Homo sapiens: one gene and its partners. The protein of the gene in region 3 interacts with the protein of the main gene of each other region in a pairwise test. Each region holds a gene or a part of one and is shown on either strand. Other genes may lie near its edges. The genes, in order: CCDC136, KLKB1 and PSMD9.

Evidence for each region.
Region 1: the proteins of PSMD9 (region 3) and CCDC136 interact in binary tests that used the Homo sapiens proteins (3 or more experiments, as listed by UniProt).
Region 2: the proteins of PSMD9 (region 3) and KLKB1 interact in binary tests that used the Homo sapiens proteins (3 or more experiments, as listed by UniProt).

What each region holds. Positions count from the first base shown.
Region 1 is NC_000007.14:128,801,877-128,809,320, reverse strand, and holds part of CCDC136 (coiled-coil domain-containing protein 136), read right to left. Parts: intron 4,672-7,444; coding exon 4,560-4,671; intron 3,963-4,559; coding exon 3,797-3,962; intron 3,561-3,796; coding exon 3,420-3,560; intron 3,085-3,419; coding exon 2,926-3,084; intron 2,634-2,925; coding exon 2,463-2,633; intron 1,962-2,462; coding exon 1,776-1,961; intron 786-1,775; exon of another isoform or gene 557-785; intron 1-556. UniProt on the Homo sapiens protein: May play a role in acrosome formation in spermatogenesis and in fertilization.
Region 2 is NC_000004.12:186,237,258-186,244,701, reverse strand, and holds part of KLKB1 (plasma kallikrein isoform 1 preproprotein), read right to left. Parts: intron 6,447-7,444; coding exon 6,337-6,446; coding exon of another isoform or gene 6,304-6,336; intron 6,298-6,303; exon of another isoform or gene 5,657-6,297; intron 5,538-5,656; exon of another isoform or gene 4,208-5,537; intron 1-4,207. UniProt on the Homo sapiens protein: Participates in the surface-dependent activation of blood coagulation. Activates, in a reciprocal reaction, coagulation factor XII/F12 after binding to negatively charged surfaces.
Region 3 is NC_000012.12:121,891,644-121,899,087, reverse strand, and holds part of PSMD9 (26S proteasome non-ATPase regulatory subunit 9), read right to left. Parts: intron 4,350-7,444; coding exon 4,247-4,349; intron 1-4,246. UniProt on the Homo sapiens protein: Acts as a chaperone during the assembly of the 26S proteasome, specifically of the base subcomplex of the PA700/19S regulatory complex (RC).

The DNA of each region.
Region 1 (7,444 bases), on a different chromosome or scaffold from region 3:
ACCCCAAGCCACAATGCATTCTGGCTGTTTAGATACCGATTGGGGATCCCCTGCAGGCTGCTCCTTCAGAGCAGGTTGCTCTAGACTGGTGGCTGGCCTTGCTCTAAACTTCCACCATTCCTTTCTGGGGGCAGTTTGATGGGGAATGCTATCGATGCCCCTTTCTCATTTCCCCCTTCCTCTTCTCCGGCCCTTTCCTTTATACACCATATTCCCACCCTGTTGGGAACTCTTAGCTCCTGTTATTCTCATTAACCCCAGTTGTTTTTTAATGCAACTACACTCCTTACAAATAAGGACTTAATTTCACCCTAATTTTTCCCATTTTTGCTTTCCTAATTCTCTCTTTAAATCTTTAGAAAGTATGCGCTATTGGTAAATTTGGGTTGAGAAGACTAAATCATCCCATTTCCAAAAACCCAGATCTTCTAATATCAGACAGATCTCAATGCTGTTTTACGGCTAGAGAAAAAGCAGGTGCTGTCTGCCAGCATGCTTCTCCTTTCCCATCATTTTTCCCATTAGGGGAAGAGGTGACGAGCAAGTCACAGATCACCTGGGCTCCTAAATTGAGTAGCAGTGGAAAAAGGAGGAAACGTGAGCCTGGATATAGAAAGGCAAAGAGACTGCTGAGGTGGCCCAAATAACCTTCCCAGTCCTCCGTCTCCTGAAGGCCTTTCCCCAGGGACAGGAACTACTGAGTTTTCTGGCAGAATGTGACCAACTCCACCATCGTTAGAGACTCTTGGGCCTCTTCTCCAACATGCTTCAACACCTTTCCATTTCCCATCAGTAATCAGGAGCTGAAAGTGCTCAACAGGATAAATGATAACGGCTTGCATTTTATACACTATGGAAAAGAAAAAAAATGAATAAGGCCTTATTTATCACTACCAGGATTTACTGCTAAAAGGAAGTGAGTTAAGAGTAGTATTCTCTTCCATTTAAAGAGGGCACAATTCAACCTTCCACAATTTAATTACTGGCAGGGCATGGCGGCTCATGCCTGTAATCCCAGCACCTTGGGAGGCCGAGGCAGGTGGATCACCTGAGGTCAGGAGTTCGAGACCAGCCTGACCAACATGGCGAAACCCGGTCTCAACTAAAAATACAAAAATTAGCCAGGCACAATGGCATGTGCCTGTAGTCCCAGCTACTTGGGAGGCTGAGATAGGAGAATTGCTTGAACCCAGGAGGCGGAGGCTGCAGTGAGCTGAGATCGTGTCACTGCACACTCCAGCCTGGGCGACAGAGTGAGACTCCATTTCATAAAAAAAGAATTTAACTACTTCAAAGTCACAGAATAAATCCTAGAAGAGCCTAGGTCCTTCTCTTGCCCAATCAGCACTCTGGGCACAAGACCGTACCCCTTTATAAGACCATTTGCAATCTGACCCAGAAAACTGGCCCCTTTCTCTAGTTCCAACAATAATATTTGTGTAATGGGCCCATGTATATGTTCCCCTCCAAGAATGACTAGATATCACTACAGTTCTAATACCATTGTATAAATGTCTACATACATGGAATCATGTGTAAAACTTTCAGGGGTTCAGACTGGGATCCAAAGGTATTGATCCTACTAAGCTGTGGCTCTGGCTCAAAGTCAAGGTCAGGGCAAACAATTTTGAAGTTAGCAGCATGTGGCCCTGCCTCTGCTTCCTGCCTAGGAAGGCCATCAAGCCCTTGGGTTGGGTGCCTTCACTTTTTGCCTCTGTACCTCTTCTCTCTGGAGCAAGTGCCCAGGAGCTGTCACCTCTCTGAACGACAATTACCTTATTAGCACACTTTCCTTTGTCCTCCGGAATGGGGTGGGAGGCCTTGAGCTCTTTCAGCTCCAGCTGGCAGAGCAGGAGGTCCTGCTCCAGCTGGTCATACATGTGCTTCTGCCGCTCCAGCTCGTCCTTGCTGGCCTGGTACAGCTGCTTCATCTCCTGAAGCTGAGCGTGCGTCTCTGTGTCCTGGGCAGGGGAGGCAGGCCTGGCCATCATCCCAGGCACTCCTGCTGCTGGACTCTCTCCTCCCAGGCGGGGACTAAGGGGACCCATCTTCCCTTGTCCTTCTCAGCCCCAATTTCATCCCAGCCAGGGATAGATACCCAAGATGGACCCGTCCCTGACAGGCTTGAAACACAGACCTTCCCAGTGCAGCCTTTCCAGTTAAATAAATAAATAAATAAATATAAAAATAATTTAAAAAGAAACACAGACCTTCTGGGGCTTCCTTTTTTGGGAGGTGGGGAGGCAAAGGGACTTCCTTTTTATATGCTGCTTTTCTGATTTAAAATCAAAGGAAGCTGAGAGCCTTGTGACTCCCCGAGGTCACCTTTCTCCTAAGCACCTCTTTGGCCCCCTCACTGCCAGCTCCTCCACACTCCTACCATTCCCTCTCGTCCTCTGTGCTCTCACCCTCACACAAGATGATGCCTGGCTACATCCTCCCTCACCAGGAGCTTCTTTTACCTTCTCATTGCTCTCTTTGAAGGAGGCCACCGTATCCCTGAGGTGCTGCAGCTCTGCCTCATGGCACTGCAGCTCCTCCTGCAGCTGCTGCTGCCGTTCCAGCAGCTTTTCCTTCTCACATGTGACGTTCTGGTGCTGGAGGTGCAGCTTCTGCAGCCGGCACAGTAACTCCTATGGTAGAGGGGGCTTTGGGCAGTGCCTTTGGGCTCCTTAACCCACTCACTCTTCTGTGTGAGTCACTTGAAGACACCAACAGTCTAAGATTTGCTTCTTCCTGCCCTTCACTTCCTAATGTCCTCATATCTAATGTAGTACTCGAGCAGGGCTGGAGTTCTTTACCTGTGGTGCTGCCTATGTGGTTGCTGGAATTATTTTTAACTCACTACTCTTATCCACCTTCCCCAAAACCTCAGAAGGATGCCCTTAGCACCTAAGTTGTCCCCTCACCTCTGGTTGCTGTTACCTTCTCACTCTGGTTTTCTACAAGTGTGGATTTCATGACTTTGAGCTGCCGGAGCTCAGTCTGAAGTTGCAGCTGCATCTTCAAGAGCTCGTTCTGCTCATCCTGGCTAGTATCATATTTTTTCTGCAGGGTACAGAGTCTGGACTTCAGCTCCTCATTCTGTGGTAGGGAGGATGTGAGTAGAACAGTTACTCTCAAGAAACAGCAGGTCTTTCTACGGATCAGTTGGGTTCCTTTTCAGATGCAGACATCTTGAGGAGCTCCCACAGGTCTAGGGTTTGGTTTCTTCTGTGAGATGGACACTCAGTAATGACCACCATTTCTAGAATGCAGTGCTATATGACTTCTACAGTTGGTTTCCAGCAGACTGTGCCCAGTTGCAGGGCAAGAGTCAGCAGAGCACAGCCATACTCACTGTGCCCACCCCGGTTGAAGCAGCCCCTCCATGAGGCCCTTCTGCCCCCACCCCAGATGCCTCCCCGGGCAGTGTTTACCTGGGTGACACTGTGGGAGGTCTGAAACCGAAGCACCTCATTCTGAGCACACTTGAGCTCCCTCTGCAGCCGCCTCTGCTCCTCCTCACTGACCTGGCGATGATGCTGTAGCTCTTCCAACTCACAACACAATTCCTGACACTATGTGGGAAATGGAACAGGGAGGCTTGTTTACTACAGATACCACATATGCTCCAAGAACAAGCTTGGGGAAAGCATGGCGCTCTTTGACTGGAAGATTTACATCAGGCAAGTGAGACCCCAGAGTACTATCTCCCTCCACAGTGGATGCCTATGGAGATGTTTCTACCACAGGCTGGGAGAAGGTGAAAGAAAGACAAGAAATGTGCCTGCCTTCCCCACCCTCTGTGCCCTACCTTGTTCTTCATGCCATGCATCTGCTCTTCAGCATCCCGTAGCTGCTGCCGTAACAACTGCATTTCAGGATCAGGCTCTAAGAAATCCATTTCTGAAGTCTGAGACTCTGCTGACGTCATACTCAGTGTTTGGGACTGCAGCCATCTCTCTGTTGCTCTCTGTGTCCTGCAATTCAGAACCGCAGAGCTATGCTTGAAGGGAGTTCTGCCTGGCATCACCAGCCATGCAGGCTTTGTCCTGATACCTTCATTTTAGGCCAAAGATAGTAAGGGGCCTTCTATTGTGACTCACCGCTCAGATAAACATGCTTAAAAGACTACAGAAAGTCTCCAGCCCCTCAATCTGCAAAGGTGTGTTTGGCTCTGGGAGACCCTTAGAGTGCCAGTCCAGTTAGTTTTGAGGCTAGGCCTAGTCAAGCCCACTCCAATCTGGAAGCATTGTGCCTGCCATTAGACTGAAACAAGTCTATGCAGACAATAAAAGAATCTCTTCTGATCCACTTTAGGGCAGAGCAAACCAGAACCCAGTGCCTAGAGCAGAAGTAAACTTCAGAACTCACTCCCTCTAGTCTTGAGATAATTGGGTCGGATCCCCATGTCTGCTTGTAGGTGGTATCTGTATCCTTTGGAAACCATGGAAAGGACTGGGTCTCCAGGAGCAAAGGAACGCTCACTGCCCTGGCATCTGCCTTCAGGGAAAGCCCAAGGTAAGGCAGAGTCCTGTGGAACCCCATGACCTCTCACTCTCCAGAGACAGCTGTACCTCTCACTCTCCAGATCTGCAAGCTGCCCCGTGAGGCTGCTGTTGCTCTCCTGCAGGGCCCGGTATTCCTCATTCAGGAAATGGTAGCGTTCCCGCAGCTCCTGCAGTTCTTCTGCAGAGGACAGGCAGAGAGAGATGAGACCGGGAGGAAAGGAAAGCACTGATGACCAGCCCCCAGTTTTCCTGTCTTGAAACCTGAGAGCAGAAGGTTAAAGAGCTTCTCTTTTTCTAAAGACAGAAAAAAGGTAGAGGCTTAGAAGACAGGGCCCAGGAAATTCCACAGTGCAGTGAGTCTTTCTCCTCTTCCCAATAGCTGTCCTTCTTCTCATCTGCCCTGAAGATTTACCCTGTGTGCTCATCTTCAAAGCCTCAACCGAAGCAGACTCTTGAACTTTTAGCAATTTTTGAAAGTTTAATTAACTTTCAAATTTTTACTGTATGTAAAAACTTTCAAAAGTTTACTGTATGTAAAATTTCCATTCAACTGTTTATGATTACCTTCCAATTATGCTTTTAGTACAAAAAGCTGAGAGATGTGAACTGTCAGATGTGACTGCCAGTACCTGCCTTTCAGGCATTCTGAGTTTCCTTTTATGTTCTTTATTCCCACACCAAATACATTGGTCTGGATGTGGTAAAGAATTCTTGCCAGGTGTAGTGGCTCAAGCCTGTAATCCCAACACTTTGGGAGGCCGAGGTGGGCAGATCACTTGAGGTCAGGAGTTTGAGACCAGCCTGGCCAATATGGCAAAACCCCTGTCTCTACTAAAAATACAAAAAGTAACCAGGCGTGGCGGTGCATGCCTGTAGTCCCAGCTACTCAGGAGGTTGAAGTAGGAGAATTGCTTAAACCCTGGAGGCAGAGGTTACAGTGAGCCAAGACTGTGCCACTGCACTCCAGCCTGGGTGACAGAGTGAGACTCTGTCTCAAAAAAAAAAAAAAAAAGGAATTCTTTCTAATGGCCTTTTATCTGCTGACAGGCCCATCCTAACCAGACTCACATATCATCCTCAAGCATTAGAAGAGATCCGGTTGAAATACTCCAGCACATGTCTCTAAGCACCAGTCACCTATACCTATACTTTTTCCTTTTTGGTTTTGTTTTGTTTTGAGATAGTCTTACTCTGCCATCCAGACCAGAGTGCAGTGGCACAGTCATGGCTCACTGCATCCTTGACCTCCCTGGACTCAGGTGATCCTCCCACCTCGGCCTCCCAAGTACCTGTGACTACAGGCACACACCACCAAGCCTGGCTAATTTTTGAATTTTTTTGTAAAGATGGGGTTCCGCCACATTGCCCAGGCTGGTTTCAAATTCCTGGGCTCAAGTGATCCACCTGCCTCGGCCTCCCAAAGTGGTGGGAGTACAGGCATGAGTCACCATGCCCACTTTTAAGGCTGTGATGATACAAACACCTGTATCTGTTTTGTTGCTTCATGACTAAGAATTATGTTGGCCGGGTGCAGTGGTTTACACCTGTGATCCCAACATTTTGGAAGGCCAAGGTAGAAGGATCATTAGAGCCCAGGAGTTCGAGACCAGCCTGGGTAACAGAGCAAGACTCTGTGTCCACTAGCAAAAAATTGAAAAAGAATTATGTCTCTTAGAACATTAATTCTACTGATATTTAAAGAACACTAACTTGCTCTAATTAGAACACAAGACCTATCTTACCTGCTGGAAGATTCAACACCCTAAAAGTAACTTCTAATGTTTCCTCTTAATTCTAATCAGAATTCCTTAGAATACTGCAGATTACCATATAAGGGAGGAAGGAAACTAATCTTTAATGAAAACTAACCATGCGCTAAGCATTAGACTTGATAGTTTCAGCCTCAGATTTGGTAAGTGTGCAAGTGATTTCAACATGCTTCACATTTCATTTAATTCCCAAAATAGCTCTGTAAGGTTTTTTTCTTCTTTAAATAAACTTTGAATTTTAGAATAGTTTTAGATTTACAAAAAAGTTGCAAAGGTAGTACGGAGTTTCCTGGGAGGGTTCTCACCCAATTTCCCTAATTGTCAACATCTTACATTACCATGATATACCTGTCATGACTAAGGAATCAAATATTGATACATTACTATTAACTAAACTCCATAGTTTACTTGGATTTCTCTACATTTTCCCTAAGGTCCTTTTCCTGTTTCAGGATCCCATCTAGCTATAAGGTTTTATTAACCAATTTTGATTTCATATCCTGGATATAGAAACAGGCTCAGAGAAAGACCATAACCAGACCTCCTACGTTCATCCTGCTAATTAGTGGAGCTGAGATACTGAACTCAGGTCTGTTTGACTCCAGCCCAAGCCTTCCCACTGTGCCAACCTTCTTCTCCCAGCACCATTTAATCTAAAGGCTCTTCTGAGAGGCTTGATACAGCTGGAAAAACTTGCAGTTCTTTGATTCCTTGTTGATTGCCTCTGCTTGACCTGGCCAAATATAGGACCTCCATTATACTCAGATTATAAATCTAGCCTCAGAATAAAGGCAAACTCTCTGATGTCATGAATCCTAGCAACTAGCTGGGAGACTCACTGTCTGAAAGCAGGGCTCTAGGCTTTTGGGTACCTCATGTATCACTCAGAATAACTTTTCTTCTCTAGCTGTCTTTTGTTCCGATTTGTTGCCCCCCAAAGCTTCTATTTTGAGGAGAGCTAATGGAACCTAAGAATTAGCATCCCTGCACCTGGAAGCAGGGCCAGAGGCCCCCTATAAAGCATTCCAGGCAAAGCACCATGATGCCAGGGCAGCAGGAAGAGTTTCCCAAGGTGACAGGTCCCTCTTTGCCCATCCTAGAGCTGGAAATTTTCCCAGGAAGGGTTTTCCCATAGTCAAATCAACAAAGACCCAATGACTCTCTGAAGAATTCCCAGGGTAC
Region 2 (7,444 bases), on a different chromosome or scaffold from region 3:
CTCATTAACCAAATTGTCTTGCCTATTCACCCCATGGTACCAAAGCCATATACTCTCCTATCCTCAATACCTCCCTCCACAACCCATTATTCTGTTCTGGATCTCAAACATGCTTTCTTTACTATTCCTTTGCACCCTTCATCCCAGCCTCTCTTCGCTTTCACTTGGACTGACCCTGACACCCGTCAGCCTCAGCAACTTACTTGGGCTGTACTGCCACAAGGCTTCGAGGACAGCCCCCATTACTTCAGTCAAGCCCAAATTTCTTCCTCATCCATTACCTATCTCGGCATAATTCTTCATGAAAACACATGTGCTCTCCCTGCTGATTGTGTCTGGCTCATCTCCCAAACCCCAACCCCTTCTACAAAACAACTCCTTTTCTTCCTAGGTATGGTTAAGTACTTCCGCCTTTGGATACTAAGTTTTACCATCCTGACTAAACCATTATATAAACTCACAAAAGCAAAGCTAGCTGACCCCAAAGATCCTAAATCCTTTAGCCACTCCTCTTGCCATTCCTTAAAAACAGCCCTAGAAACTGCTCCCACACTAGCTCTCCCTAACTCATCCCAACCCTTTTCATTACACACAGCCGAAGTGCAGGGCTGCGCAGTCAAAATTCTTACACAAGAGCCAGGACCACGCCCTGTAGCCTTTCTGTTCAAACAACTTGACCTTACTGTTTTAGGCTGGCCCCCACCCCCATGACTGTATCTCTCTGATCCACCTGACATCCACTCCATTTCCCCATATTTCCTTCTTTCCTGTTCCTTACCCTGATCACACTTGGTTTATTGATGGCAGTTCCACCAGGCCTAATCACCACTCACCAGCAAAGGCAGGCTATGCTGTAGTATCTTCCACATCTATCACTGAGGCTACTGCTCTGCCCCGCTCCACTACCTCTCAGCAAGCTGAACTCATTGCCTTAACTCAGGCCCTCACTCTTGCAAAGGGACTACGTGTCAATATTTATACTGACTCTAAATATGCCTTCCATATTCTGCACCACCATGCGGTTATATGGGCTGAAGGAGGTTTCCTCACTACACAAGGGTTCTCCATCTTAATGCCTCTTTAATAAAAACTCCTCTCAAGGCCACTTTACTTCCAAAGGAAGCTGAAGCCATTCACTGCAAGGGCCACCAAAAGGCATCAGATCCCACTGCTCAGGACAATGCCTATGCTGATAAGGTAGCTAAAAAAGCAGCGAGCATTCCAACTTCTATCCCTCACAGCCAGTTTTTTTCTTCCTCATCTGTCACTCCCATCTACTCCCCCATTGAAACTTCCACCTATCAATCTCTTCCCACACAAGGCAAATAATTCTTGGACCAAGGAAAATATCTCCTCCAGCCTCACAGGCCCATTCTATTCTGTCATCATTTCATAAACTCTTCCATGTAAGTTACAAGCCACTAACCCACCTCTTAAAACCTCACTTTTCCTTTCCGTCGTAAAAATCTATCCTCAAAAAATAACTGCTCAGTGTTCCATCTGCTACTCCACTCCTCCTCAGGGATTGCTCAGGCCCCCTCCCTTCCCTACACATCAAGCTCGGGGATTTGCCCCCGCCCAGGACTGGCAGATTGACTTTACTCACATACCCGGAGTCAGGAAACTAAAATACCTCTTGGTCTGGGTAGACACTTTCACTGGATGGGTAGAGGCCTTTCCCACAGGGTCTGAGAAGGCCACCGTGGTCATTTCTTCCCTTCTGTCAGACATAATTCCTCAGTTTGGCCTTTCCATCTCTATACAATCCGATAACAGACCGGCCTTTATTAGTCAAATCACCCAAGCAGTTTCTCAGGCTCTTGGTATTCAGTAAAACCTTCATACCCCTCACCATCCTCAATCTTCAGGAAAGGTAGAACAGACTAATGGTCTTTTAAAAACACACCTCACCAAGCTCAGCCTCCAACTTAAAAAGGAGGACTCTGTCAAGGATAGAGCCCAAAAACTCACCAACCAAGCAAGTAATTACACTGAACCCCCTTAGGCACTCTCTAATTAGATGTCCTGGGTCCTCCCAATTCTTAGTCCTTTAACACCTGTTTTTCTCCTTCTCTTATTCAGACCTTGTGTCTTCCATTTAGTTTCTCATTTCACACAAAACCATATCCAGGCCATCACCAATCATTCTATATGACAAATGCTGCTTCTAACAACCCCACAATATCACCCCTTACCATAAAATATTCCTTCAGCTTCATCTCTCCCACTGTAGGTTCCCACGCCGCCCCTAATCCCGCTCGAAGCAGCCCTGAGAAACATCGCCCATTATCTCTCCATACCACCCCCAAAAACTTTCGCCACCCCAACACTTTACCACTATTTCGTTTTCTTTTTCTTATTAATATAAGAAGACAGGAATGTCAGGCCTCTGGGCCCAGGCCTGCACGTATACATCTAGATGACCTGAAGTAACTGAAGAAAGACAAAAGAAGTGAAAATGGCCGGTTCCTGCCTTAACTGATGACGTTACCTTGTGAAATTCCTTCTCCTGGCTCAGAAGCTCCCCCACTGAGCACCTTGTGACCCCCCACCGCTGCCCGCCAGAGAACAACCCCCTTTGACTGTAATTTTCCACTACCTACCCAAATCCTATAAAACGTCCCCACCCCATCTCCCTTCACTGACTCTCTTTTCGGACTCAGCCTGCCTGCACCCAGGTGATTAAAAAGCTTTCTTGCTCACACAAAGCCTGTTTAGTGGTCTCTTCACACGGACGCACATGACATTAAATATATGCAATACTTCAGCCCAATGTCCTAACCTGTTAAAATTGTTTTTACTTTGCTTTTCCTATCTAATATGTTGGGCACTATTTATAGATATTTTGGCCAAGCAACCAGTTGATTTCTAGGACATTCTCTATTTCAAGTATGCCATCTGGTTAGCCTCCGAACAGAAACCATGATGTTGCTTCCCCTAATTGCAATTTTATCAACCAGCTTCGTTTATCAGACTTTCTTCCCCAGAGGTGATAAAAATAAAAAAACCTTTTTTTTCCAATTTATGTTTTCCTCCTTTTGGCTTGAAAATATGTGTACCATCTCAATTGATAAATTAATAAGTCACATGGTAGGAATTTTCCATGTCAGAGTTGCAAATGGTTTTGTTAAATTAACTGAGGAAACGTGGTTAGCCTGACATCTCTCAAGATCTATGCAGGAAGATGGACCACAAGAGAAGGAAATCTGTAAATATAATGAATTCATATGTGTTGAGAGGCAGGAGGCTTTAAAACACCATTAAATCCATTAAAAAAACAAAAGGTGGAGTGAGCACTGTGAAATGTGTGTGACCCAAGGGTCGAGTTCTGGTTCAGCTCATCAGCTGTGTTGCCCCCGGAGCACCTTCACTTCTACCCTCCTTCCAGGAGCCTTAGGGGTTTTGTTTGTAAAATTAGGAAAATCCTTGGTGAAACCAAGGACAAATCTGTAGTGATAACTACAGATCATCCCTAACTTATGAATCTCATTTGGGCAGTTAGGCCAGGAGACAGCCCTACTCTAGGTTTAGGAGGCATGTGGCTACTGGGTGTTCCCTGAGGAACGGGGACCACGTACTCAGTGAAAAGCCACGCCCTTAGCAGCTCAAAACACCACCTGAAACAGCCATATTTTTATCAGTCTGTAAAGGCCATTTGATCCGATTAAATCACATGTGAACTCACTGCAATTTAACAAGAAAGCAAGTACACAGATGAGCCATCCAGGGTGCTCTCCCAGGTGTGGACAGCAGCTGTGACAGCCCAGAGCCACAGCACGAGCTTGCCTGTTCCCTGGGTAAGTGCAGCAAATCCTTCCAGCAACAGGGCTGGGTACAGAATGGAGCATGTTTGCATCGAGTCCTGCCTCCTGGCAGCCTTCAAAAACTCTCCCAGAAAAAAATAATATGAACGTTAAAATTAAATCACCAGTACACGTGAACCTGGCACACACCATGGAGAAGGTGTGCTGTCGCAAAGAGGAGACAGGAAAATAGCCACCTTGTAACCAACCTTCCCAATCTTCCACAGGGAAATCCTAGCCCAGCACCCAATACAGGGCCAGGCACAGAGCCAGCACCCAGTACTGCGGAAAACTGGCCGTAAGGGATTTGCTTTTAGTAACATCTTGTCATTAACATCCTGACATGCTAAATGAGGTGGAATGTCATGGCAATTTTCTGGATAATTCCATTGAAATTACCTTTATGTGTGAAACGACAGAGTTTTATTTCCCTACCCCTGGTAGAGTCATTTCACTAGATAGGGACACAACCAAGGAATGACCTTACAGTTTTGCTACAACATCACTGTACCTATAACTATAACAATATCACTGTCCTATAACTATTACAACGTCACTGTACCTATAACTGTAACAATATCACTGTCCTATAACTATATCACTGTCCTATAACTATAACAATATCACTGTACCTATATCACTGTAACTACATCACTGTCCTATAACTATAACAATATCACTGTCCTATAACTATAACAATATCACTGTACCTTTAACTATAACTATACCACGGTAACTATAAGAATATCACTGTCCTATAACTATAACAGTATCACTGTCCTATATCACTGTACCTATAACTCTAACAGTATCACTGTACTAGTTTCCTATAACTATAACAATATCACTGTCCTACAACTATAACAGTATCACTGTACTAGTTTCCTATAACTATAACAATATCACTGTCCTATATCACTGTACCTATAACTCTAACAGTATCACTGTACTAGTTTCCTATAACTATAACAATATCACTGTACCTATAACTATAACAGTATCACCGTACTAGTTTCCTATAACTATAACAATATCACTGTCCTATATCACTGTCCTATAACTATAACAGTATCACTGTACTAGTTTCCTATAACTATAACAATATCACTGTCCTATATCACTGTACCTATAACTCTAACAGTATCACTGTACTAGTTTCCTATAACTATAACAATATCACTGTCCTATAACTATAACAGTATCACTGTACTAGTTTCCTATAACTATAACAGTATCACTGTCCTATATCACTGTACCTATAACTCTAACAGTATCACTGTACTAGTTTCCTATAACTATAACAGTATCACTGTCCTATGTCACTGTACCTATAACTCTAACAGTATCACTGTACTAGTTTCCTATAACAGTATCACTGTCCTATATCACTGTACCTATAACAGTATCACTGTACTAGTTTCCTATAACTATAACAATATCACTGTACCTATAACTCTAACAGTATCACTGTACTAGTTTCCTATAACTATAACAATATCACTGTCCTATATCACTGTACCTATAACTCTAACAGTATCACTGTACTAGTTTCCTATAACTATAACAATATCACTGTCCTATATCACTGTCCTATAACTATAACAGTATCACTGTACTAGTTTTCTATAACTATAACAGTATCACTGTCCTATATCACTCTACCTATAACTCTAACAGTATCACTGTACTAGTTTCCTATAACTATAACAGTATCACTGTCCTATGTCACTGTACCTATAACTCTAACAGTATCACTGTACTAGTTTCCTATAACAGTATCACTGTCCTATATCACTGTACCTGTAACAGTATCACTGTACTAGTTTCCTATAACTATAACAATATCACTGTACCTATAACTCTAACAGTATCACTGTACTAGTTTCCTATAACTATAACAATATCACTGTCCTATATCACTGTCCTATAACTCTAACAGTATCACTGTACTAGTTTCCTATAACTATAACAGTATCACTGTCCTATATCACTGTCCTATAACTCTAACAGTATCACTGTACTAGTTTCCTATAACTGCTGCTCTAGGGGCATAACCACAAACTTAGTGGTTAAAAACAACACAAATTAATTATCTTACTGTTCTAGAGATTGGGTCTTACTGGGCTAAAATCAAGACATCAGCAGGGCTTCTTCCTCCAGGACGCTCCACAGGGAAACTCTTTCCTCGCCCTTTTCAACTTCTAGAGGCCGCCTGCATTCCTTGGCTCACGGACCTTCATCTTCAAAGCCAGCAGTGTAATACCTTCAAACCTCTCTCTCTGGCTCTGAGCCTTCCGCCTCTCTCTTTTTCTTATGAGCCTTGTGAGCACTCAACCCTGTGAGTACATTGGGCCCATTCAGAAAATCCAGAGTAAACTCCCCATCTCGAAGCCCGTAACTGCATGCCATTGACAGAAACGCTTTTGCCAGCTATGGGAACACACGCACAGGTCCCAGGGCTCAGCACAGGGACGTCTCTGGGGGCTCCTATTCCACCTACCACAATCACAAAGTGAAGTAGTCCTACAATTACCAATTTCTGAAAGGGCACAGGGCTTCAGTGAGAATCCAGATTCCACGTTACTCAGCACCTTTATAGCGGTAGGTGTTCCTCCGGGACTGTACTTTAATAGGCAATTGTTCCTGAATGGGAAGAAAAGAGGTTACTTTGCTTTCTGCACTTTGAGGGGCAGGGAGCAGTGCAGGTAACAGTTAGTATTAAAATGCACAGTGGAAAAACAATGACCCTGATAATGAGTGGGTTAGGGGTCTGCATTATTAACCTAATGGACATCCTTCCCCTCGCAAAGGGGTAAAGGAAAAGTTAGGGTGAGAATGAGGCAGGAGACTCCGTGACACTAAACCCTCATTCTATAAGCAAGGCCTATGTGTGGGGCAAACGGAACTTCAGGAAAAATGACACCAAAATTCGCTTCAGGAAAGCGAAAAATGACACAGACTTCAGAAAATGACTTCAGAAAAAATGACACCAAAATTTTGCTTCAGGAAAAAATGACACCAAAATTGAGTAGAGCATGGAGCGATAGACAGTAGAGACTGGGAAGGTGACAGAGAGGTGGGAAGGGGGCGGGCGTTGAAAAATAGCTTAGTGGGTACAATGTACATGACTCCAGTGATGGATATACCAAAAGCCCAGACTTTACCACTGTAAAATACATCAAAGTAACAAAATTACACTTGTACCCCATACATCTATGCAAATAAAAATAAGATTTAAAAATAAGGAAAAAAATCACAAGTTAATATCAAATTGTGATTAGCTCTATGAATGAAATAAACAGAGCTGAGTGTGACTTAAAAGAGAATGCTCAGAAATGGGCTTTTGGAGGGGACGGTATTTGAGGAAAGACCTGCAAGAATCAGCTTTGGAGAAGTAGGGGAAGAGGATGTCAGGCTTTGAAGATGCGGTACAATTACATGCCAGGGGAAAAGAGTAGAGAAACAAATGAAATTAAATGAATTATTTAATTAAAAAATGAAGGGCGAGGCGCAGTGGCTCATGCCTGTAATCCCAGCGCTTTGGGAGGCTGAGGTGGGTGGATCACAAGATCAGGAGTTCGAGACCAGCCTGACCAACATAGTAAAACCCCGACTCTACTAAAAATACAAAAATTAGCCAG
Region 3 (7,444 bases):
GGTCAAGAGATCGCGACCACCTTGCCAACATGGTGAAACCCCGTCTCTACTAAAAAATACAAAAATTAGGCCGAGCGTGGTGGCTCAGGCCTGTAATCCCAGAACTTTGGGAAGTCAAGGTGGCCGGATCACGAGGTCAGGAGATGGAGACCATCCTGGCTAACACGGTGAAACCCCGTCTCTACTAAAAATACAAAAATTAGCCGGGCATGATGGCAGGCGCCTGTAGTCCCAGCTACTCGGGAGGCTGAGGCAGGAGATTGGCGTGAACCAGGGAGGCGGAGATTGCAGTGAGCCGAGATCGCGCCACTGCACTCTAGCCTGGGCAACAGAGCAAGACTCCGTCTCAAAAACAAAACAAAACAAAACAAAAACAAAAATTAGCTGGGCGTGGTGGCGGGTGCCTGTAATCCCAGCTACTTGGGAGGCTGAAGCAGGAGAATTACTTGAACCCAGGAGGTGGAGGTTGCAGTGAGCCGAGATCGCACCACTGCCCTCCAGCCTGGCGACAAAGCAAGAATTCGTCTCAAAAAAAAAAAAAAAAAGTGCTGCATAAGCCTAGTAATCCTGGAGACATTCAGTCCAGGAGAGGGAGTCCACAGGGAGGTGGCCAAAGGGCACCCCTGCTACAGGGCTCTTGCCAATTGGCTGGGTTTGGGAGGAAGACCCAATGCTACAAAATCTTTGATTTTTCCAGAAAAGCTGAAAATTGGGATCTTTGAAGTGAAATTCTCTGATTTTTCAGTACAGATAGCTAATTCAAAATGTTGTGAACCACCATGGCAATCTGCAGGCCACGCCAGCACAGCAGCTGGTATTTTGATACCTTGTGCCTGTCAGTGGGATTGCGGTACTACCTGACCTGCCTCCTCTGCCACTGTCACTTTGGAGCAAAGGCAAGACCCTCAGTCATGAAGGGATTCAAGTTCTCAACCCACAGGAGCAGATGTGGGAAAAGAACCCAGATCTGAACAAGTGGAGACATGCACTTGGGAGGCAGACTTACATAATACATGGTCACTTTCACTAGAAAAGCCCTCCCCCAGTGAGGTCCACAGCATCCCTAGACTCTGCAATGCCTGGCACAGGGAAGTGCTCAATACACAGCTGTTGGGGAATGGAACGAACGACTATTTACAACATATTACAATTCTAATCAAAATGTTGAAAGGGTTTTTTTCAGTACAAAATGTTTCTGCAGTGTATTTCAAAAAACAAATTTGCAATTATAACAAACGTACCATATTAACATAAGCTGTTAGCTGGGCGCGGTGGCTCATGCCTGTAATCCCAGCACTTTGCGAGGCCGAGGCGGGCAGATCACCTGAGGTCAGGAGTTCGAGACCAGCCTGGCCAACATGGTGAAATCCCGTCTCTACTAAAAAAATACTACTAAAAAATTAGGCCAGGCATGGTGGCTCACGCCTGTCGAGGCCGAGGCGGGCGGATCACCTGAGGTCAGGAGTTGGAGACCAGCCTGGCCAACATGGTGAAATCCCGTCTCTACTAAAAAAATACTACTAAAAAATTAGGCCAGGCATGGTGGCTCACGCCTGTCGAGGCCGAGGCGGGCGGATCACCTGAGGTCAGGAGTTCAAGACCAGCCTGGCCAACATGGTGAAACCCTGTCTCTACTAAAATATAAAAATTAGCCGGGCACGATGGCGGATGCCTGTAATCTCAGCTACTTGGGAGGCTGAGATGGGAGAATCACTTGAACCCGGGAGATGGTGAGTGCAGTGAGTGAGCCGAGATCATGCCACTGCACTCCAGCCTAGGTGGCTAAGCAAGATTCCATCTCAAAAAAAAAAAAAAAATTAGTCCGGTGTGATGGTGGGCACCTGTAATCCCAGCTACTTGGGAAGCTAAGGCTGGAGAATCACTTGAACCTGTGTGTATACACATGTGTATATATTTGGGAGGCCTCAGCCTCCCAAAGTGCTGGGATTACAGGCATGAGCCTCTGTGCCCAGCTTATGCAGCATTTTTCCTTCTAGAGGATTTCAGAGAAAAGTGAAATCTTGGTTACACCCAGCCTGAGTCATTCACTCATATGTGTATTTTGCATATATACACGCATGTGTATATTTTACATACACATGTATGTGTGTATATATTTACATGTATGTGTAGATATATACACATGTATGTGTATATATGCTGTTAACAACACGGGAGATTACATACAGAAGCCAAAGGACCTATGCATTATTTTCCAATTTTTTTTTCTTTTCTTTTTTTTTTTTTTTTTGAGACAGAGTTTCACTCTTGTTGCCCAGGCTGGAGTGCAATGGCACAATCTCGGCTCACGGCAACCTCCGCCTCCTGGGTTCAAGTGATTCTCCTGCCTCAACCTCCTGAGTAGCTGGGATTACAGGTTCGTGCCACCATGCCCAGCTAATTTTGTATTTTTAGTAGAGACAGGGTTTCTCCATGTTGGTCAGGCTGGTCTCGAACTCCCGACCTCAGGTGATCTGCCCACCTCGGCCTCCCAGTGTGCTGGGATTACAGGCGTGAGCCACCGCACCCAGCCATTATTTTCCAATTTTTATGTAAATCTATAACTGTTCTTTAAAAAGGGCTGTTTTGAGAATAGATTTTCTTTCTTTTTTTTGAGACAGAGTTTTGTTTGCTCTGTCGCCCAGGGTGGAGTGCAGTGGTGTAATCTCGGCTCTTTGCAACCTCTGCCTCCTGGGTTCAAGTGATTCTCCTGTCTCAGCCTCCCAAGTAGCTGGAATTACAGGCATGTGCCACCACATCCAGTTAATTTTTCTATTTTTAGTACAGACAGGATTTTGCCATGTTGGTCAGGCTAGACTCAAACTCCTGACCTCAGGTGATCTGCCCGCCTTGGCTTCCCAAAGTGCTGGGATTACAGGCATGAGCCACCGCACCCGGCCGAGAACAGATTTTTCAAAAAAAGACCAATAAGGAATTGCTCAAACAGATTTTTTTTTTTTTTTTGAGACGGTCTCTTGCTCTGTCACTCGGGAGGTGGAAGTTGCAGTGAGCCAAGATCGTGCCACTGCACTCCAACCTGGGTGACAGAGCGAGACTCCGTCTCAAAAAATAAATAAATAAATAAGATGTGATGCAGATGGAATCAAGATTCAAACAGATTAAAGAGGAGTTAGTAAGTGAAAAATGTGGAGGATAAATGCTAATAGGACTCTGTGGTGGAGACGGTTGCCTACCTATGGCTGAGTGGATAATGGCCCCCAACACATCCACATCCTAGCCCCTAGAAGCTGGGAATATGCCACCTTACATGGCAAAAGAGGCTCTGCAGATGTGATTAAGGACCTTAAGATTCGGACATGATCCTGGATTATCCAGGTGGGCCTGGTGTCATCACAGAGGTCTTTATAGGTGAAAGAGGGAGGCAGGAGAGTGAGAGAAAGAGATGTTATGACAGAATCAGAGGGAGGGAAATGCGACTGCTGGCTGTGTAGATGGACGAAGCCATGAGCCAAGGACGGTGGGCAGCCTTTGGAAACCAGAAAAGACCAGGAACAGGTTCTCCCCTAGATCCTCCAGAAGGAGCCAGCCCTGCCAACACCTTGATTTTAGTCCAGTGAGACCCATCTGGACTTCTTATCTCCAGCTACTAAGTCTGTGGTCATTTGTTATGGCAGAAACAGAAACAAATATACTATCCAATCTGTACTCTCTGCTAGCTCTTTAATTAAAAACAAATCACGTCATTTGTTATGGCAGAAACAGAAAACAAATATACTATCCAATCTGTACTCTCTGCTAGCTCTTTAATTAAAAACAATCAGCACCTTGGAAGGCCAAGGCAGGAGGACCACTTGAGTCCAGGAGTTCAAGACTCACCTGGGCCACTTAGTGAGACTCGTCTCTACTAAAAAAAATTAGCCAGGCACAGCGACACATGCCTATAGTCCCAGCTACTTGGGAGGCTGAGGCAGAAGGAGCACTTGGAGCCTGGGGGGTTGAGACTGCAGTGAGTCATGTTAGCACCACTGCACTCCAGCCTGGAAGACAGAGCAAGACCCTGACTCAAAAAAAAAAGAGAGAGAGAGAGAGAGAGAAAATGAAACCAGAAATATAGAACCTTAGAGTCTAGCCCATTCCCTTGGTTCTCAGTCCTTGGATGGGGACAAGACAATCCCATCAAGGCAGAAGAGAAGGCAGTAGATAATACAGATAGTTGGTTTTATTTGTATGCCTTTAACACCTTCCCACCACAAGGTGGGGAAAGTCTTCTAAGAGGGCCACTCACATATGATGTTGTGCCTGGCGGTGCGGACTTGGTACAGGTCCACGTCTGACCGGGGGTAGCCCTCACAGTCCACCAGCGGCTCGTTCATCCCAATGCCTTTTTGCTGGAGGAAAGAAACGTGGTTAAAAGGTGCTCATGGGTGTAATGTCCCCAGGATGTCTTTCCCCAGACCCTTCTCCTCTGAAGTCATAATAAAGGTGACAGTAATGAAAACTGCCACATACTGATCACTTACACCAGGGGCTCTACTCATGCCCTCACAACTACCCTGGGGTGGGCACTGTGTTTTTCATTTTTTATTTTTAACGACGCAAGTAATGCATGAATCCATTCTTTTTTGAAGTTAAAACAGTGCCGATAAAACCAAAGACTCCTTTGAGCATCATCCCCAAGGCCAGCCTCTTCCTCCACTCCTTCACACCCTCCTTCCCACAGGTGGCTGACACCTGGCTGCTGGCCCTGGAAGCTAGAGGGGAGTGAAAAGCCCAGACAGCACCCAGCTGTGGCAGGGCTTTGATTCTTCTGAAAATAAAAAGATCTGAAGAAGGAAACTGATAGCACCAGCTGCCTCCGGGGAGAAGAACTGGGTGGCTAGGTGACAGGGCAGGGAGAGAGACAGTCCATTTTATACCCCTCTGTAGGTTTTGAATTTTGCCTATGGGAATGTATTCTTTATTCAAAACAACACTTTTTTTTTTTTTAACATGAGTCAGAGGAGAGTACACAAAAGCAGTGAAACCAGTCACATGGTTCAGGGGAGGGGCTTTGCAATTGGTTAGACTTTAATTTGAATCTCAACTCTGCCATGTACAAGCTGGGCATCCTTAGCTGAGACCTTCTCCTCTCTAAGCCTCAGCTTCCTCAATTATAAAATGGGAATAGGAGCACTCGCCTCCCTCCCTACCTGCTGCAAGAACTAACGAGCTGACCTGCAGAGTACTTAGCACATGCCACGCGCATACACAGCATAGTGGGTTGAAGAGCGGCCCCCAAAAACAGATAACCACGAGCTAACCCCCAGAACCTGTAAATATGACTTTATTTGAAAAAGAGTCTTTGTAGATGTAATTATGTTAAGGATCTCGAGATAAGCTCATCTGGTGGCTGGTGTCCTCATAAAAGAAAGGCAGAGGTAGGTGTGGGACAGACACAGGAGGAAGGCCACATGAAGATGCAGGCAGAGGTTCAAGTGACACAGCTGTAGGCCAAGGACCGCCAGCAGTCACCAGAGGCCAGGAGAAAGGCTTGGGAGCTTCTCTCTCAGAGCCTGCAGAAGGAGCCAACCCTGCTGACACCTTGATTTCAGACTTCTGGCCTCCAGAGCTGGGACAAAGTAAATTCCTGTTTTAAGTCACCAACTCTGTGGTGTTAAGGTGGCCTCAGAAAACGACTACGCGCAGAAGTCATAAATAGTGGCTGTAAGGATTAGTCAGTCCAGGGACAAGCTGCCAGTGTACACAGGCACTGAGAAGAGGGATTCCATTCATTTTGCTCCCTTTCTCTCTGGAAGCCTCCGGGTTACACCCAAACCTACTGTCCACTGCGCAGGGAGATAGTTCTCCACACTCCCCTAACACAGGACTCGCCGTGACACTGCAGAAATGCGCCAGGGGCTAAAAACCTGTATCTGCTCCTGCCTTCCCACAGTGGTTAAGGGTTGACCAGCCTTTGAGAATCAATATCACATTGGATAATGCTTCTCAAAGGATGGGATCCATAACACTAGCAGCTCACACACACGGCATTAAATAACCCTGAATCAAAAATACATATTCCTCTCCCAATTCTCTACAATCCTGCAATTGTCAAGGCAAAAGTGTCCATTTGGTGCTGGTCTCTGCAACACCCCAGTTACTTGCTATCTCTAGTACCCTCTGTTTTTATAACAGTTTTATTGAGATATAATTCAGATACCATATAACTGACCCATGTAAAGTGTAAAAGGTAATGGCTTTTGTGTTTGTATTGGTTTGAGACAAGATCTTCTGTTGCCCAGGATCGGGTGCAGTGGTGTGTTCATAGCTCACTGCCGCCTTAAACTCCTGGGTTCAAGCGATCTGTCTCAGCCTCCTAAGTAGCTGGGACCACAGGCACATGTCATCACACCTGGCTAATTTTTAATTTTTAATTTTTTTTTTTTAAAGACAGAGTCTCGCTCTGTTGCCCAGGCTAGAGTACAGTGGCGAGATCTTGGCTCACTGCAAGCTCCGCCTCCTGGGTTCAGGCCCTTCTCCTGCCTCAGCCTCCCGAGTAGCTGGGACTACAGGCGTCTGCCACCACACCCGGCTAATTTTTTTGTATTTTTAGTAGAGACGGGGTTTCACCGTGTTAACCAGGATGGTCTCGATCTCCTGACCTCGTGATCTGCCAGCCTCGGCCTCCCAAAGTGCTGGGATTACAGGCATGAGCCACCATGCCCGGCCTTTAATTTTGAATTTTTTGTAAAGATAGGCTCTTACTGTGTTGCCCAGGCTAGTCTCAAACCCCTGGCCTCAAGTGATCCTCCTGCCTCAGACTCCCAAAGTCCTGGGATTACAGGCATGAGCCACCACGCCTGGCCATTGACCATTTGTATTGACCATATTTTCTTTGGAGAAATGTTTATTCAGATCCTTTCCCTGTCTTCTAATTGGCTGTCTTTTTATTATTGAGTTGTAAGAGCTCTTATTATAGTCTAGATACTATCCTCTTATCAGAGAAATGATATGCAAATATTTTCTCCCATTCTGGAGCTTATCTTTTCATTTTACTATGCCCTTTGAAACACAGTTTTAAAGTTGAAGTCCAACTTATCATTTTTTCTTTTGTAGCTTGTGTTTTTGGTGCCATATCTAAAAAGGCTTTGCCTAATCCAAGGTCATGAAGATTTACTCCTATGCTTTATTATACGAGATTTATAGTTTTAGCTGTCCACTTCTTTTTTTTTTTTTTTTTTTTTTTGAGATGGAATCTCTGTCACCCAGGCTGGAGTGTCGTGGTGCAGTCTTGGTTCACTGCAACCTCCGCCTCCCAGGTTCAAGTGATTCTCTTGCATCAGCCTCCCGGGTAGCTGGGATTATAGATGTGTACCACCACACCTGGCTAATTTTTGTATTTTTCGTTGAGACGGGGTTTCACCATGTTGGCCAGGCTGGTCTCGGACTCCTGACCTCAAGCGATCCACACACCTCGGCCTTCCAAAGTGCTGGGATTACAGAC